Linked DNA regions of Homo sapiens: region 1 is linked to region 2. Evidence: fine-mapped expression QTL. Tissue or cell type: whole blood. Region 2 holds a variant in brackets; the other region holds the start of a gene. All regions are shown on one strand. Distances are between the middles of the regions.

The links. PIP is the estimated chance that this variant, and not a neighbour inherited with it, causes the effect.
Region 1: LAMA5 starts here. The variant in region 2 is fine-mapped to the expression of LAMA5 in whole blood (TOPMed, PIP above 0.99).

Annotation. Positions count from the first base shown.
Region 1 is chr20:62,364,039-62,372,038 of GRCh38, forward strand. It overlaps LAMA5 (laminin subunit alpha 5), which reads right to left and starts at 3,274. Exons shown (of 80, transcript NM_005560.6): 1 at 2,911-3,274. The coding sequence starts at 3,207. RefSeq lists enhancers at 1-680, 681-1,380, 2,079-2,778, 4,877-5,576, 6,977-7,674 and silencers at 335-629, 2,958-3,397.
Region 2 is chr20:62,327,327-62,335,326 of GRCh38, forward strand. LAMA5 (laminin subunit alpha 5) reads right to left here. Exons shown (of 80, transcript NM_005560.6): 19 at 7,891-7,943; 20 at 7,695-7,800; 21 at 7,196-7,295; 22 at 6,860-7,016; 23 at 6,575-6,713; 24 at 6,238-6,380; 25 at 6,049-6,155; 26 at 5,764-5,917; 27 at 5,231-5,391; 28 at 5,046-5,154; 29 at 3,706-3,803; 30 at 3,417-3,618; 31 at 3,162-3,288; 32 at 2,451-2,590; 6 more. MIR4758 (microRNA 4758) reads right to left here and starts at 5,231; the gene lies at 5,161-5,231. The variant T/C (reference allele first, on the strand shown) is at 4,832.

The DNA of each region.
Region 1 (8,000 bases), 37 kb after region 2:
CCCAGAGCTCTGCAGTGGCAGGGTCCACACCCTCCTTATTCCCGCTGTGTCCCCAGCTCACCACCTAAGCATTCTCGTGGATGGGGCTAGAGCAACTGAAGACACCCAGTTAAGCGCCACGACCCCTACCCGCAGGCCGCACTGCAAGCTTTGATGGTGGCCCCCAAACTCAAGAGCTCAATGACAGCACGGCGCACACAGGTCCTGCTCAGGGTGGGGCCAGGGGCTCCTGGAGAAGGTAGGTGTGGGCGGCGCCCTCTGGCTGGGACAGCCGGACCTCCCAGGGAAGGCTGCTTGCTGGTCAAGACCCTCCCAGACACACGAGCAGCAGAGGGAAGCTGGGTGGAAGGTTGCGGGTCAAGGGTCAGCCTCTACTCTTCCAGGAGGTCAGGGAAGCACCTGCTCAGTCCCTGCCTGGGCCAGCGTTGGTCCAGTTATTGGGAGGCAGTTCCAGTCCCCATTCGGCCACTCACTGAGCCACAGAGGACAGGGTTGGGAAAACCAGGCTCCCCCACCTCCGCTGCGGAGGGTCCCGTGAGAACAGAGCTAGGAAACAGCAGAAGGGCCGATAAGGACTTCCCCTTCCAATGAGTCACCATGCTGGCCTGGCTGCCCAGTCCCCACCTTCCCAGGCTGGGCCGGCCAGGGATCCCCTGATGCCCACCTGGGGCTGTGAGGGCCACAACCTCCCCCTGCCCTCTGCCTGCTCCAGCTGCCCAGCAGGGTTCACCCCGACCCCCATCTGGGATGCCCAGCTAATGTGCATCTCCTACAGAGGGTCCCTGAGAGCCCCTGGCCTGCAGCCTTGAGAACACACTGCCCAGCCCCAGGCCCCATAGCCTTAGTGAGCCCCCTCAGATGGAGCTGCGGCTTCATCGCCTGGGCACCTCCTGTGCCTGCCTGCCTTGCCCCAACCGCAGCTCCACTCCAGACCGGCCGGCAAGGACTTCTCACACGCCCAATCCGCGGCCAGGGCGGTCAGCAGACCCGCGGCTCTCAGATGAAGGAGGCATCCAAGGTCATACCCGTCCAGCTCACGTCTACCAGCTGATCTTTCTACATATCTGGCAGCCTCAGCGGGCACTCACTGCTCAGAGCTCGAGACTTTGGAAGCGAAGGGTTCACCTCTATTGCTAGACATGAGCTGGGCGAGGCCGGCTGGTTTCTCATCCAAGCTGGCTCTGAGGCATGGAGCACCACAGCCCACAGCTGCCACTGAAACTGTGGCCACTTCCCAGGCTCCTCGGGCCAAGCTCACAGTCTCAGGTGAGGGGGGCCAGCACGCTGTGCCCATTTTAAAGACAGCTTGAGGCTGACAGAGGGAAGCCACACAGCTGAGGCAGAGGAGAGGGGCGTTGACTACAGGCTGGCCCTTTACTCACGAGACGGGGGTAATAAGCCCCCACAGAGGAGACAGATCTGAGAGGGGGCCTGTGGCCCCCAGCCACGCAGCATGGGCAGGCTGTGGGGGGGTGGTCTGAGGTTCACAGGGCACCTGGAGCCTCCCCTGCCAGAACGGCAAAATCTCAGCTGGGGACACTCAGCCAGGCCCTCTGTGGTGAGGTGTGGCAGCAGGTAAGGAGACAGTCACAGGCCCTCCGTCCTGAGACCCGGCCCCTCTGAGTTGACCAGATAAGGGGGCAGCCAGGAGGCACCCAGGTTCCCACAGCTAACCCCCGCTGGACCCTGTTCTGGCTGGGGGGCTCCAAGCAGGTGTCAGCAGCTTTCCAGGGCTCAGATCCCCCATCTGAAGTGTGGGCTTGAGACCTCCTATCTCAGAGGACTGTGCTGGGCTTAAGGAGAGAACGGTGAGCCCAGAAGCCTGGGGAGGCTCCTTCCCCCTCCACCAGGGCCAAGGGGGTGGGGCAGGCAGAGGGGGCGGGCCCAGCCCAGGCTCCTCCATTCATCCCCATAACGTCTTGCTCCAGGGCCCTCTGCCCCCACCCAGCAAATCTCCAGCTACTCGCCCCTGCCCCAGCCTCTCCTTCCGGGAAGGCAGAGGTACCAGGGAGGAGACAGCTCAGGTTACACAGGCCCTCAGGGCCCCTAGACTCTCCCTAAGGTGGGGCTGAGGTGGGGAATGGGCCTAGAGCGGCCGGTTGGGAGCCGTTGGAGCTGACTTTGCTGCTCCTCACCCAAGGCTGACCCCAGGCCCAACCTAAGTCTACAGGGCCCCAAGAGCCTTGGTTTTCAGGTGAGGTGTCCATGCATGGAGTCCACCAACAGAACCCGCCTACAGGTTTAAGGCTTGTTGGGGAGGGGACATGCACCCCAGGGGGTCTTCAGGGCCTGAACCCACATCTCCCAGGGAGACTGAAGCCCCCGGACCCTACCACCTGCTGGGCAGAGATGCTGCCCCTCCTGGGAGCCACGTGTTCCCAGCCCCAGTCAAAACTTCGCAGCTGGCCCTCCCCTACTTTGGAGGTCTCCTCGAGTCCCTAGACTCCTCCGAGAGGGGCTAGTGGGAGCCTCAGGTGGCTGGCCCCTCCCACCCCATCCAGAGGCCAACAGGTTCCAGCCTGTCCCGGGTAGGGCGGAGCTGCGCCCCCTCCCCACCGGCAGCAGGCGGCGGAGGCCAAGTCCCGCCCTCCCCGGGATCCCGGACTTGGGGCCGCCAGGGACTGGGCCCGGCCCCCCTCCCGCCCCGGTCACCGCAGTCGAACTGGACCGGCGCCCAGCCGCCCCCGGGTCCATGCCGGGGACTTTAATTCCGCCTTCCCGGAGGGACGCGAAGTTTCCCGGCCGAGACGGAGCGGCCGGGTCGGGGTGCCTTCTTGGGCCCCCAAAATGCGGAACCAGAGAGTCCGCACCTGGACTCGCCCCGGGCCACGGCGCTCCCCCTGGGGTCGGGCCGGTGTTCCGGGTCCGAGTGCCCCGGGAGGAAGCCCCACGGCCCGCCCCTGCGCTCACCCGGATGGTCTGGTTGGGGTCGCCGCCGGCCACGGGGCCCCCTACCAGCTTGCAGTAAAGGTCCTCGGTGGGGCGCGGGGAGCCGCGCGCCGGGGCCTCCTCTCCGCAGGTCGCGGAGGCGGCGATGCGGGCGCCCTCGGCCAGGTTGAAGTAGGGCGGGTGCAGGCTGAAGCCGCCGCCCGCCTCCTCCCGCGCCCGCGCCGCGCCCAGCAGCGCCAGCCCGACCAGCAGCAGCGGCGCGGGGCCCCGGGGGCCGCGAACACACAGTGCGCTCCCCGCGCAGAGCCGCTTCGCCATCTTCCCGGCTCCGGGCCGCGTCCCCGAGCTCCAGGGACAGCGCGCGCGGCGGGAGCCCGGCGGGTCTGAAGCCAGGCGGCCGGCAGGGCTCGCTCCGCCCGCGGACGTCAGGCCCCGCCCCGGCCCGCCCGAGCGCCCGAGCCCCGAGCCCCGGGGAGAGGTCCGGGGAGGCGGGGTGGGGGGGGGAAGGAGAGAGGAGGGGGAGGGGCGGCCGGGCGGCCTTAACCCTTCGGACCCCGGCCCGGCCGCCTCCCGGAAGGGGCACCTGCTGGCCTCGGGCCAGGCCGTGGGACGACGGCGCCGCCGGGCCCCCAGCCCAGGTCGTAGCTCCGGGTCCCGGGTGGGACCCTAGCGCTCCCCACGACGCCCTGGCCCCCAGAGCGCCCACCAGCTCCTCCCAGCCCAGGGGCCCACTCTTTGTTCCCCTAACTTGGGTGCACCACTCGGCTGCCCCCGCTCCTCCCCCAACAGCGTCCGTCCTGCTGGCTGCGGGAAGGTGCCCTCTGCACCCGCGAATGACCATCTGCAGAGGAACGGGGCAGCCTAGGTGGGAACCCCCTGCTTCCTGGGGCAGCCAGGTCAGGTTCAACTCGGCCTGGCTCCCGCCTGCCCCAGCAGGGCTTAAAAATACTCTCAGATAGGGAAATAGGGGCAGGAGGGACTGGCCTGCAGCTGCAGCCCCCTTTAGAGGACGGGGGCGGTGCTCATGGCCCCACAGCCGCCAAATTGGCTCTTAAGGAGGTCGGGGGCTCTGGTCACAGCTGCTGAGCACCTGCTGGGTGCCTGGAAGCACCTGTGCTCCGGGGCCCGGTGGACTCCACCAGCTCTCTCGGCCTGGCCTCCAACCCGCTGCACAGCCGCGCACGCGTTCCTGCCACGATCGGCGGCTCGAGGACGCCTGGCAAACAGCACAGGACCTAGAGGCCGAGATCAGGTCTTCGTCTGCCTTTGGGTGGCTGCGGCCCTGGGTCTCCTACTTCCCTTGGGCTCCGGGGCCAAATCTGCCTCCAGGGAAGCCCCGAGGGGGTGGCGGCGGGGTGGGGCTGCAGCTGCCGAGCTGGCAGCAAACCCCCATCCCTGAGCCAGGCCAGCTGGGCGGGCCATGGTCCCAGATGGGCTGTGGGGCTCATCTCTCGCTGGGTTCCCTGGACAGTCCCGGGGGGCTGGGTGGGTTTGTGGGGCACTGGCCAGCCGGTTCTGGTGGGGGTTCTGAGCTAGCAGCTGTCCCTGGAGGGTGCACCTCCTTGCACACCTTCCTGGCGCCCTGGCCTCCTGCAAATCTCAAATCCCAAGAGGGTGTATGGCCCTTTCTCTACGGAGTCGGGAGGGCGATGGGACCCTCTCTCCCTCCTCCTACTTTCCGGCCCGGCAATTCTTCCATAACTTCACTATTAGTTCTCCCACCTGGGGGAGGGGGGAGAGGAGGCGGCTCCCCTTGGCAGGAGAAGCTCCAAGTGGGGGAGGGGCTGGCTGGAGAGGGGGCGGAGACATCAAGGAATCTGCAGTCCAGGCGCAGAGTCCGGCTCTGAGCTGCTTTAGATCCCGTGTGAGGCAGAGAGTGGCCTCTGGGCAGTAGCGGGTCCCCAGGTGGGGGCTTGGCCCCAGGCAGTGTGCTCTGGCTCTGGGCTCCCCCTTGACAGCTTGGGGCTCTGACAGCCTGGGGGACTGGAGGTGGAGACTCCTGAGACCCTGAGGGCTTCTTGGGATCCCTGGAGGGTCGGGTGGTTGGAGGGGTGGGATTGCGAGTGGCGGGGCAGGGGGAGAGGTGGGGGTGGGGAGAGCACTTTAAGCCTCCTAGCGGCCAGATCAGGCCAAGCTGCCAGGCCTCCGCTGTCCCCCGGCACTGGCCAGGAGGGGAGCGGGGGCCGGCCCTGAGAATGCGCTGTGTCAGCCGGAGCTGCCAGCACCAGCAGGGTTAATCACCGGGCTCACTGCTTCCCGGCAGACAGCTGCCCCGGGAGCAACTGGCAGGCAGGCGGGCAGCGCAGTGGACAAGAGAATGTGGCCCAGGGGCTGGGTAAAGAGCCCACACTCTGCCCCCACCCTGTGTCTGCTGGTGCACGGACTGGGAAGGAGGCAGCTGGGGCAGGAGCTGAGCGTATGGAGGGCGGGGGGGCTGTCCCAGCCGGGCTACACACAGGGGGTTGGGGAGGTGAGCAGGGAGAGGGGCAGCTCATCTCTGCACACCCCCACCCCTGCTGTCTTTGTCATGGTTCCAGTGAGTCATCACCAAATGGACCAGCGAGCCTGTCTCCTTGTCTTTCTGAGTCCTGCGCAGCCCAGCCACCTCTTCTATTTACAAATGGGGAAACTGAGGCCAAAAAGGCCAGGGTCAATCAAGAGCACACAAGTTAGTAAAGCAAGAGGAAGTTTGTCCATCATTCATTTCTTACTCCTATTTACTGGGCATCTTTCGGGCACCCGCCCGTGACGTAGTCCTCCTCCCTGCAACAGGTCAGACGGCACCCCACCCCCAAACACGTCCTGTCCTGAATCCACAGGAGGGAGCTGCCCAGTCTGGGAGTGGAGGGGAGGGTAAAAGGAGGTGGCTCGCCAGGGGAGGGCCGTGGAGGAGCCTCTGTCCCACCAGGCTCTGGCTGCCCTCCAGGGACAATCCAAGATCCAGAGCCCCTGCCCACCCAGCTCCAGGGTGATGGAGCCCCAGAGGAGGTGGGTCGGGGGCAGGGGTCAGTGGCAGCCCGAGAGAAGTAGGGGCACTCCTGGCCCTGGGGAAGGGGTCTCAGATCCTCCCCCAGCCCTGGGACAAGGTCTGCTGCGGAGCCCTGGGGGCAGCCACCTCACCTGAGCCCCCAGTGCTACTCCAGTGGCATTCCTGAGAATGCCCCCACCCTACTCGGCCACACCTGCAGGCAGCTGTGGGGGACCCTGAGGGTAGGCCACAGGCACATCTGACTCAGCCGTGAGTCGTGAACTCCTGACCTTGGGAGCCTCCTGGGGACACCGCTGTGCTGAGGACATGGGGCACCCCCACGCCCACACTCAGCTGCATCACAGGCAGCCACAATCAGTAACAGATGACTCTGCAGACCCTCCTGTCCCAGAGCCCAGGGTCCAAGTGGGTGCTGTACCCTCGGGAGAAGCCCCCAAGAGGAAGCGGGGGCTGAGCAAGAAGGAGGGCTGGAGGCTGGGCTCCTGCTAGGGCCGGGCCTGCGGGTGAGGCCTTGTGGCTCCCACTCCAGAACTGGGAATGTTGTCTCAGCGGGATGAGGTCTGGAGGAACGCCAGCGCTGTGGTTTGGGATATCGGAGGCCACAGTCCCTTTCTCAGGGCTGCTGGGATGCCCTTCCGTGGAGCCGGCTGGTAAGAACCTCCATCCCTGTCCATGAAATAGAGAAGCTGGGAGCGGGCAGCAAGGCTGGTTCTGAACTGTTCGCGTGGGCCAGCTCAGTCCTCTGGGAGGAGGACACAGAACAGCAGGTGCCGGGAAGACAAGGTCTCATCAGGATTGCATAAACCCAGCGGACTGGGAGAGCTTCTGGGCCTCTTGGCCTAGGAGGCCCCCACTGCCCTCAGCCTGGACAGACTGCTGTAAGAGCCAGCCCGGAGTTGCAGACCCTGGGGGGCTGGCCTCAAAGGAATGGAGGCAGAGCCCAGGAAGACCCTGAGCCATAGCCAGACCCCTCCCCCAGGCCTGGAGCCCGCCTTCCCCCAGGGCTGCCACCTGCCTCCAGCCTCCGAGGGTCTGCAGGTTCCTGCTGCCAGAAGGATGGGGCCAAGGGATAGTCCGGCCTTCCTGGCCTAGGCAGGGTCTGGAAACAGCCCGTTTGGAAGGAGTGGTGCTTTTTCCTCCCTGGCTGTGACCCCAGCTGGGCCACTGCTGGGCTCCTGACGGCCTCTGGGACATGTGGTTGTTGGAAAGCACAGAGACCAGGCTCCGGGTTGACACTAACCAGGAATGAAGGACTCTGACCCACCGCTGCCTGGCCCCTGGCCCCTCTGCCACTTGCTGTGTGTGCCCAGCTCACAGGCCACGCAGCCCCAGGCACCACTCACGGGGCAGGCCCTCCACAGACTTGGGGCTCTTCAAAGCCTTCCAGGCCAGGCACCATGCCAGGAGCATGGCCACCGCCTTAGGGCTCCAGGAGACAAGTCACCCGTGCAGGTGACATGCCTCACGCCTGCCCACTCCCCGAGGCCCGACCCAAAGGCTGCCACTGGGTTCACACCTGGGGGGTTTCAGGTGGGCCCCCATGCCAGAGGGGGTGCAGACAGGCTTAGGTGGTGCCCAGTGTCGGAGATCTGGAGAGGGTCAGCATCCGGGCTCCTTGGGCTCTCCACAGATGCTCCCCGAGGCTCCTCTTGCCCACCCAGCTCCTTTTCTTCCCAAGTGGCAAGGAGAAGCGCTTGGGCTGGTGCCCTGTGCAGGCGGGCCCAGCCCCATGACAAGCAGGCAAACCTGGGGTGCTCAGAAATGGGGGGGCCTCATGGAGCTCTGTGGGGTGGTCTGCGTGGCGACCGAAAGTCCAGAGTCCAGGATCCCACCTGGATGCCCCTGCCCCGGCCTGGGCCTGTGTAGCTGGGTGTAGGGGAGCCTCCACCCTGCCAGCCTTTAGGAGGGAAGGAGTAGGGGGCCCTGGGAACTCCCAGGGAGGGGGCCCGGGACCTCCCTGGGATCTAACCACCTACAACTTGGCAGGGAAGGGGCCGGTCCAGTAACAAGGTTGCTCCCAGGACCCCAACCCATCCCCTCCCTCAAGTGGGGGCCCCTGTCAGGGCACCTCCCAGCACCTTGCTGGGGTGTGAGGCAGAGTCCAGGACTCCTGCCCCCAGAT
Region 2 (8,000 bases):
ATCTCCGTCCCTGGCTGCCGCTCGTGGGGCACCACCTGCCGGTCAGTGCTCAGCAGCACCCATCCCTCCATATCCACGAACTGTGGGCACACACGTGTGGCTGCACACGGGTGGATGCCCACACATCACAGGGCCCCATCTTGCATCCAGTCCCACCTAAGACCTCCCCGAGAAGGCAATGCCCTCAGTCCTGCAGGCGCACCTCCTGGCGGGTGTAGGACGAGCTCCGGCAGCGCTCCGTGGCCCCAAAGCAGAAGCAGCGGGTGCAACCTTTGGGGTTGGCAGCATCCAGTGAGAAGGTCCCAAGGCTGCACTGGTCACATTTGGGGCCCTGCACGTTCTCCTAGGGATGAGAGGACAGTGAGAGTGGTCGGCAGGTGCCAGGTGCCTGACCCCGGGTTCCTGGTACCCACCTGCCAATGGGGATGACTCTCCCAAAAGCTTCTAGGAAGCCCCAGCTGCCCCGAAAGGCCCGTAAGGACACTTTCAGCTGATGAGGCCGGAGGGAGAGGCCAGATCTGGGCCCAGCCCTCACTCACCTTACAGTAGCACTGCCCTGTGAGGGGGTCACACACGCCAGGCGCAGTGCCCGCCTCGTGACAGTCACAGGGGCGGCAGCGGGGGTAGCCATGGAAGCCCGGAGAGCAGGTATCACAGCGGCGCCCAGTCACGTTGGGTCTGCACCTGTGGCAGGGGCGGGAGCTGAGCCCCCTCCACCCCAGGTCACTCACACCAAAGTGAGACCTCGTAGGCACCCCCCACCCAGGCAGCATCCTCCCAGAAGTGGAGGAGAGGGCGCTGCTGCACCCAGGGAGCACAAATGGGAGCAGGGTGGGTGCCAGGACCCTCTGGCTAGAGGAAATGCTGTCCTTAAGGCCACCAGGGGCCGCGCTGACGCCGCTCTGGGCTCTCACTTGCACTGGCCGCTGTCTGTGTCACAGGTAGGGTCTGTGAGCTCCTGGATGCCGGGCCCTGAGCAGTTACACTCCTCACAGCCGACCAGGGGGTGGCAGCCAAAGGTCTGGGGCTGGCACAGCAGGCAGTCGGGCGGGATGGTGCGTGGCGGGCAGATGCACTGGCCCGTGAGCTCGTCACAGAGGCGGGCACCGCAGTCACAGGCTGTGGGGCGGGTACAGGGTTTACTGACCCCTCTTCCCAGTCCCGCCCCTCTCAGAGGCCCAGAATGCAGCCCTAGGGGATGTGGCAGTGTGACGGGGGCGGGGGAGACAAGAACAGGGACCCCTGCCCCGGGTGCTGAGCCTTGGACAGCTCCTGACATGGAGGCAGCTGCTCAGAATCAACATCATCGTCAGAGACTGTGGACCACCTGCTGGTCCCTGAAACCTTCTGCATGGCCCGCAAGCTGGAGTCCTGGGCCCAGGCCCGCAGATGGGGCAGCAATGCTGCCCTGCCAGGCTCTAGAACATTCTCCTGACCCTGCTTTCTGGTCGACCCGTCCACCTTGGGCTCTGGCACCAACTCCCTGCCACTGGGCGCCCAAGGACTGGGGTACTCACGCCTGCAGTTGGGGAAGCCCCAGTATCCGGTGGCACAGCGGGAGCAGTCACGGCCAATGACATGGGCATGGCAGGGACACTGGCCCCCGAAGGGCTCACACGTGGGGCCTGTAGCACCTACTTCGTGGCAGCCACATGGACGGGCTCCGTTGTTATAGAAGAGGGAGAGGGAAGCAGCAGCGTTTCGGCAGAACAGGGATGAGCTGCTGGGGCTACATGGAGGGGCACGTGGTGAGGCCAGCTCCCGGCCCAGACCCCCACCCCGGACCCCTGACCTGCCAGAGCCCTGCCCACCTGATGTGGTAGCCCTGGGCTGCGCAGTGGCTGATGAAGTCATAGGATTTATCCAGGGGCTCCTCCCGGAGGTAGCCAAAGCTGTAGACGTTCTCAGGGACCACGAGTACATAATCCTAGGGGGTGAGGCCTGGTCACTCTCCCGCGGGCCCAGAGCCTGCAGCGGGGAGGCCCCCAGAGGCTGGCTGGGACCAGGGTCCTGCAGGCAGCTCAGAGTCCTGGCAGCAGCAGCCCAGCCCAGCCCAGCCCAGCCCTGGGCCCTGGCTGCTCAGGGGAGGCCACTCCAAGCCAAACAGCAGCTTTCGGGGGCATGAGGAGGCAGCAGCATTCATGAGACCTCCTGGTGTCTCCCACATCTCTGTCTGCTGGCCACGCCTTCCTCTTCCCTCTCCTTCCTGGAGGCCCCACCTCCTCCAGGAAGGCCACCCTGACCAGCAGGGTGCAGGGTGCAGGGTCCAGGGCCCCTCTGGAGCCTCACAAGGTGGATCGGGAGGTCCCCAAAGGCAGGAGCTGCTTTGCTGGGCACAAGGCCAGGCCTCAGCAGGCCCAGAAGAGACAGACCCAGCCCAAGTGTACCACAGTGGTAATGACAAGTATAAGGACAGCTGGTCCCTGAGCAGGACATCAGCTGGGACTCACCAGCCAGAGCCACCGGCCCTTGGGCACACGCACGGTCACAGTGAGCTCGCTGTGGGTCACGTCCAGCAGGGCCTGGCCCTCACACACCACCAGGGTGCGGCAGCCGTAGCCATGTGGACAGAAGCTGGCGTTGGCGTGGCCTGGGCGGGGGAGAAAGGCAGGGTCAGGCCCCCATCTCTAGCGCCCCCAAGACACCCAGAGGGTTGAAGATGGCAGCGTTGGGGCAGCCAAGGAGTGCCCGCTGGCCAACGGCCACAGGCACGGGACGTGCCCAAGAGGTCTGCAAGGCCGGCCCCTCATGTCACGGGGGTTGGCCGCATCATGACCTACAGATGTCATGCGGGACACCTCTAGGTACCGGTCAACTCCATGTGCGGGACCCCAGGCTTGGCCGAGCCAGGAACCAGACAAACACACAGGGCCACATGTGCTGCCAGCGGCATCCTGGGGCAAGCCCTCAATTCGCCACGTGCCATGGAGCACAACGGGGCTTCCCAACGCACGAGACAGAGGCGAGACCCAGGCTTTTCTGGGAACGGGAGCGGGCGGGTAGGGGCTGCGGGCTGCAAGGGCAGCTAGTTTGAGAACTGATGGCAGGACAGAGTCATGTTGCCTGTCGCTCATAGCAGGTAGCACAGGCCACGCTGTGGCGCCGGCATTCCAGCCTCATCGTGTGTGGTAGCCTCTCCACCCCCCACACCAGACACTCACCCTGCCACACGCGGCCGGCGTTGATGAGGACTTCCACGGGGAAGGTGGGGTGGGCTGGCTGGTAGCCGTGCAGCAGGAAGGCATAGCGGCCCAGCGTGGGCACATGGGTGGTGAAGACCACGGTGGCCTGCAGGGATAGGCCCTAGTGAGCAGGCTGAGCTATGAGCCCCTGCTGCCCCCTGGACAACCTGCCCTGGGTTGGGACCCGGAGTCCTGCCCTGACACCCCCGTCCCTCTAGAGACTATGGCCCTCACCTGGGGCTCACGCAGCAGGGTGGGCTCTGCATCAGGGTCCACAGCGGTGGGGGGCCGAGGTCGGGGTCCAGCTGGGGACATGGCTGGAGTGAGATCCTGCGCGTGGGTCAGCGGGAGGCCGGGCGGCAGCGGGATCACCTGGCAGTCCCTGAGGATGATGGGCTGGGGCGGCTTTGGGAAGCGCGAGGGCAGACAGGCGGCACTGGTGAGAGCACAGTGGGTGAGTCAGAGCCGGCCCTGCCGCCGGGCCCTCGGCCGCGCCCCTCCCAGCCCCATTACCTGCCATTACCTGTTGGGGCCAAAGGCGCCGTGGCTGCTGATGCAGCTGACCCGGGGCTCCACGAACTCCGGGCTGAACTCCTCAATGGGCACCAGAGTGACCCCGTGCTGCAGGCAGAGGGACGAGATGCTGCAACGCCCGTGGTGCGGGGAGGATAGGGGGTGCAGGCGGTACGATGGGGGGGTGCAGGCGGTACGATGGGGGGGTGCAGGCGGTACGATGGGGAGTGCAGGCGGTACGATGGGGGGGGTGCAGGCGGTACGATGGGGGGGTGTAGGCGGTACGATGGGGGGTGCAGGCGGTACGATGGGGGGGCCGGTCACACAGCTCAGACCCAGGAAACTGCAAACCCAGGCGTCCGACCGAGCCCTGCTCTTTCCAAGATGCCCTTGCTCCTCCTCCAGCTGCACAAACCCCAACCGCAGACCAGCGTGTTGGCCAGTTCCTGGGCCCACAGGCCTATGCGGCTCCTCCCATAGCCCTCTTCCTCCCCCTCGCCCTCCCATCCGTCACTGTTCCCCCACTCTTATCTCGAGTGCTGCTTGGTGCCACCAGGCCGGGCCAGGCCCAGCTCTCCCAGGACCTGACCCAGGCAGGCACTCAGCAGGCACAAGCCGCAAATGGGTGCTCCCTTTCCGTGCGGCCATGTGAGGTTGGTGTCTCGGAACACGGCAACTTATCCGCTGACACAACGGTGGGAGACGCGGCTGCACAGAACATGTTGTGTGGCATTTATAGAAAGTGCCAGGCCAGGTATGGTGGCTCCTGTCTGTAATCCCAGCATTTTGGGAGGCCCAAGAGGGCGGATCACCTGAGGTCAGGAGTTTGAGAATAGCCTGGCCAATATGGTGAAACCCTGTCTCTCCTAAAAATACGAAAATTAGCCAGGCGTGGTGGTGAGTGCCTATAGTCTCAGGTACTTGGGAGACTGAGGCACGAGAATCGCTTGAACCCAGGAGGTGGAGGTTGCAGTGAGCCAAGATCTTGCCATTGCGCTCCAGCCTGGGCGACAGAGTGAGACTCCATTTCAAAAAAAAAAAAAAAGAAAAGAAAGTTCCAGAACAGGCAACCAACGCTGTCTGTGCCAGGAGGTGGCTGCCCTGGGGCCAGGGAGCTGTGACTGCAGGTGCTTTCC[T/C]GAGCACATGGAACAGCTCGGGGGTACGTCAAAAGGGACTGAATCCACAAAACGCTTGCAGGAGGGGTTCCAGAAGAAACATGCTGGGCTGGGCATGAGCGAGTGTGGCCGCCTTGGGGACCTGGGACCCCAACTGTCCTCTCCCCTCTCATGCATGTTTCAAATCTTCTGAAAGAAGCTGACCCCTTGGGGTGGGGACCTGAGGGGTCCTTACCAGGAAGAAGCGTGCCTGTTCGGCTGTGAGCCTCACGCTGGCCTCCGAGTCCAGGTGGAAGACAGCCAGGTGGTCCTGGGTATCCCGGGCAGTGCCCCGGCACAGGGTGCTGTGGGGGGAGGGTGGTCAGCAGGTGGGGCAGCCCCGGGCGTGCCCTTACTCCAGCCCCACCGGCTCCCACTCACCTGTACAGGCAGGGGTGCAGGGAGAGCAGCCCCTGCTGGGGGGCCCGCTGTGGGGTGTGCACGGCCACGCCCACCTCCTGGCGGGCATCCTCATTGGCGTACTCCACCACTAGGGCATAGCGGCCTGGCTGTGGCACTGCCACTTGAAGCTGGACGTCCACCTGCAGGGAAGGCAGGGTGACGGGAGGCCCGCCACCCCTCGCCCTTCCCACCTCCCTCCCCTCCCACTCCAGCGCCTCCCTGACCCCAGGGCCTGCCCTTCAGCCGAGTCCCACCCTGGCCCGGACATCTCCAGGCAAGTGGTGGGGGCTGAGCTGTATGTGGAGGCCACAGCCAATCCTACATACAGACAGGCACTGAGGTCACACATGCAGGAGGCAGGAGGCAGGAGGCAGGGGCGCCCTGCCTGGGTGCTGGGCTCCATTGCCTGAGGCAGCGCCCTGCTCCTATAACCTGCCACCGCCACAGGACCCCCAGCCCCCAGGCCAAGGTCCTGCAACACCCATTGCTCCGTGGGGTCCCAGGACACGCACATCACTGCCCGTGCAGGTGATCAGTGGCGGGTGCGACGGGCTGAGCTGCTCCGTGGGGCAGGGCCGGGGCAGGCTGTTGTCCTGGCGACACAGGGCCTCCAGCCCGGCGGCCGAGGGGAAGCCATCCAGGGGGAGGTGTGTGTAGAGGAGGCAGCTGGGGGGACACAGGCCGTGGTCAGCCCCAGGTCCACCCAGGTCCCCAGAGACAGCCTGAGTGGGGGAAGCCAGGCACAGTGGGGGTCCAGGAAGCCCCCACCCCGGTCCCACCGCACGCATGGCCCTCACTTGTCGCCAGACTGCTGGGCAGAGGGACGGTATGTGCAGGCCTCAGTCACCCGCAGCTGCAGGAGCGCCGCCTCGTAGTATGCGCTAGGCAGCAGAACCACGTAGTCCTGCAGGGTGGAGGTGGTGCTGAGAGTGGTGGGCCCCACCCCCTGACCCGGCCCCCAGCCCTCACTCTGGCCCCTGCCTCACCAGGAGCACCCCTTCGGCCTCCACACGCAGGGCCCAGGTGCCAGGGTTCAGCACAAAGGGCTCTCCGAAGCCCCTCTGGGGCACGGTGATGAAGGCAGGCTCCGTGCTGGGTGGGAAGGCCACGGGCTGACTCTGTGCTGTGCCTGGGCGGGGGCAGGGGTGAGACTCCTGAGCCCAGCCCTTGGGGCCACCCCAGGCTGCACCCCCTACAGGGTTGGGGATAGGCTGGTCCTACCACCCACATGAGCCAGAGGAAGGTGGCGGGGCTTGGGAGTGGGGTGGGGTGGGGTGGGCTGGGCTGGTGGGGCAGGGGCTGTGGCCCAGGGACCCCACTCACAGTTGGCGCAGGTGGCCGACCTGCCCTCCTCTCGCACAGAGACCCGCCCGCTCACACTCATGGCCCCCCGGTTGACGTATCGGAAGACGAGCCAGAAAAGGTCAGGGGAGGTCAGGTTCAGCCTGGCCACGATCCTGGGCTGGGTGGGCATGGAGCGTCGGGTCACTCTCCCTGACCACTGCCAGCCTGAGGCCTGGGCCTTCAAGGGGCCTGCCCACCCCTCCCTGCCAGCCACGCCTGGCTCCACTTCTAGGCTGAGCCTGGGAGGGGGAGCACAGCGCCCACCTGGACAGGTGCCATCTGCGCGTAGCCCCTCCAGCTGAAGTTCTCGAACTCGAGGGGGTTGAAGCCAAAGCGCACGGCGTGACCCTCAGGTGTGGCAGCCTCCTCCAGCTCCAGGCGCAGGTGGTGCAGGTCCGGGAGGTAGTGGTCCCTCGCAGGCCTGGCCACAGCAGGGGCTGGTCAGGTGCAGCTTGGCCATCCTACCTAGCCCTGCACAGCGGCCCCGGGTCTCCAGGGAGGGTGAGGCCTCACGTGGGCCCATGGTGAGGGACACGGAGAGGCCCGGAGGACAAGCTGCCTGCCCCGCTCCCCACCACCCAGTGGGGAAGGGGTACCCACTCGCTGCAGGTGGGGCCCTGGGTGTTGGGGCGGCACCGGCAGACGCCCGTCCTCGGTTCACAGCTCTGGCCCAGTGCACCGCCAATGTCACACCGGCAGCCTGCAGGGAGAAGGTGGGAGGTCAGAGGCTGCCTGGCCCCCACCCAGCCTCAGGGGCCCCTCACAGCCAGACTGAGAAGCCTGCCTGGGGCTCTCTGGATGATGGAGAGTCAGGGCTCAGGGCTCAGGGCTCAGGGCGAGGGCGAGGGCGAGGGTGAGGGCGCTGGGATCTGTTAGTGCCGTCTGCCCAGGTGTAGGACAGGGGAGAGGAAGCCACGCATCTGGGTGGGAGCTGCACCCCCTCTCCCACACCCTGGCACAGGCTGGCACCAAGGGGCAGCCATCCATCACCCGGGCTTCATGCTGCCCAGGCTGCACTTGTCCCTCCGGGCCTTGGGTTCCCCAGCATAAACCGAGGGGAGGCAGGGCTGTGGTCTGGGACGAGCGAGTGGGCACTCACTGCGGCAGCCAAAATAGTCAGCCTGATCCAGTCCAAAGAAGCCATCCTTGCAGGACGCGCAGGCCTGGCCGCACACGTGGGGCTTGCAGAAGCACTGGCCGGTGCCCTGGGGGCCAAGGGAGGAGGTGAAGTGGGGCAGGGGAGGGTCCTGACCAGTGTGCCCCCAAATCCCCCACACCTTGGTCCTCAGACTCACCGGCTGGCACTCAGCAACTCCACCCAGTGTGCCCCTGAGGTCGCAGCTGCAGCCTGGGGAGAGCAGGGCAGGACTCAGATGCTTGGTGGGGCAGGAGAGCCTGGCTCCAG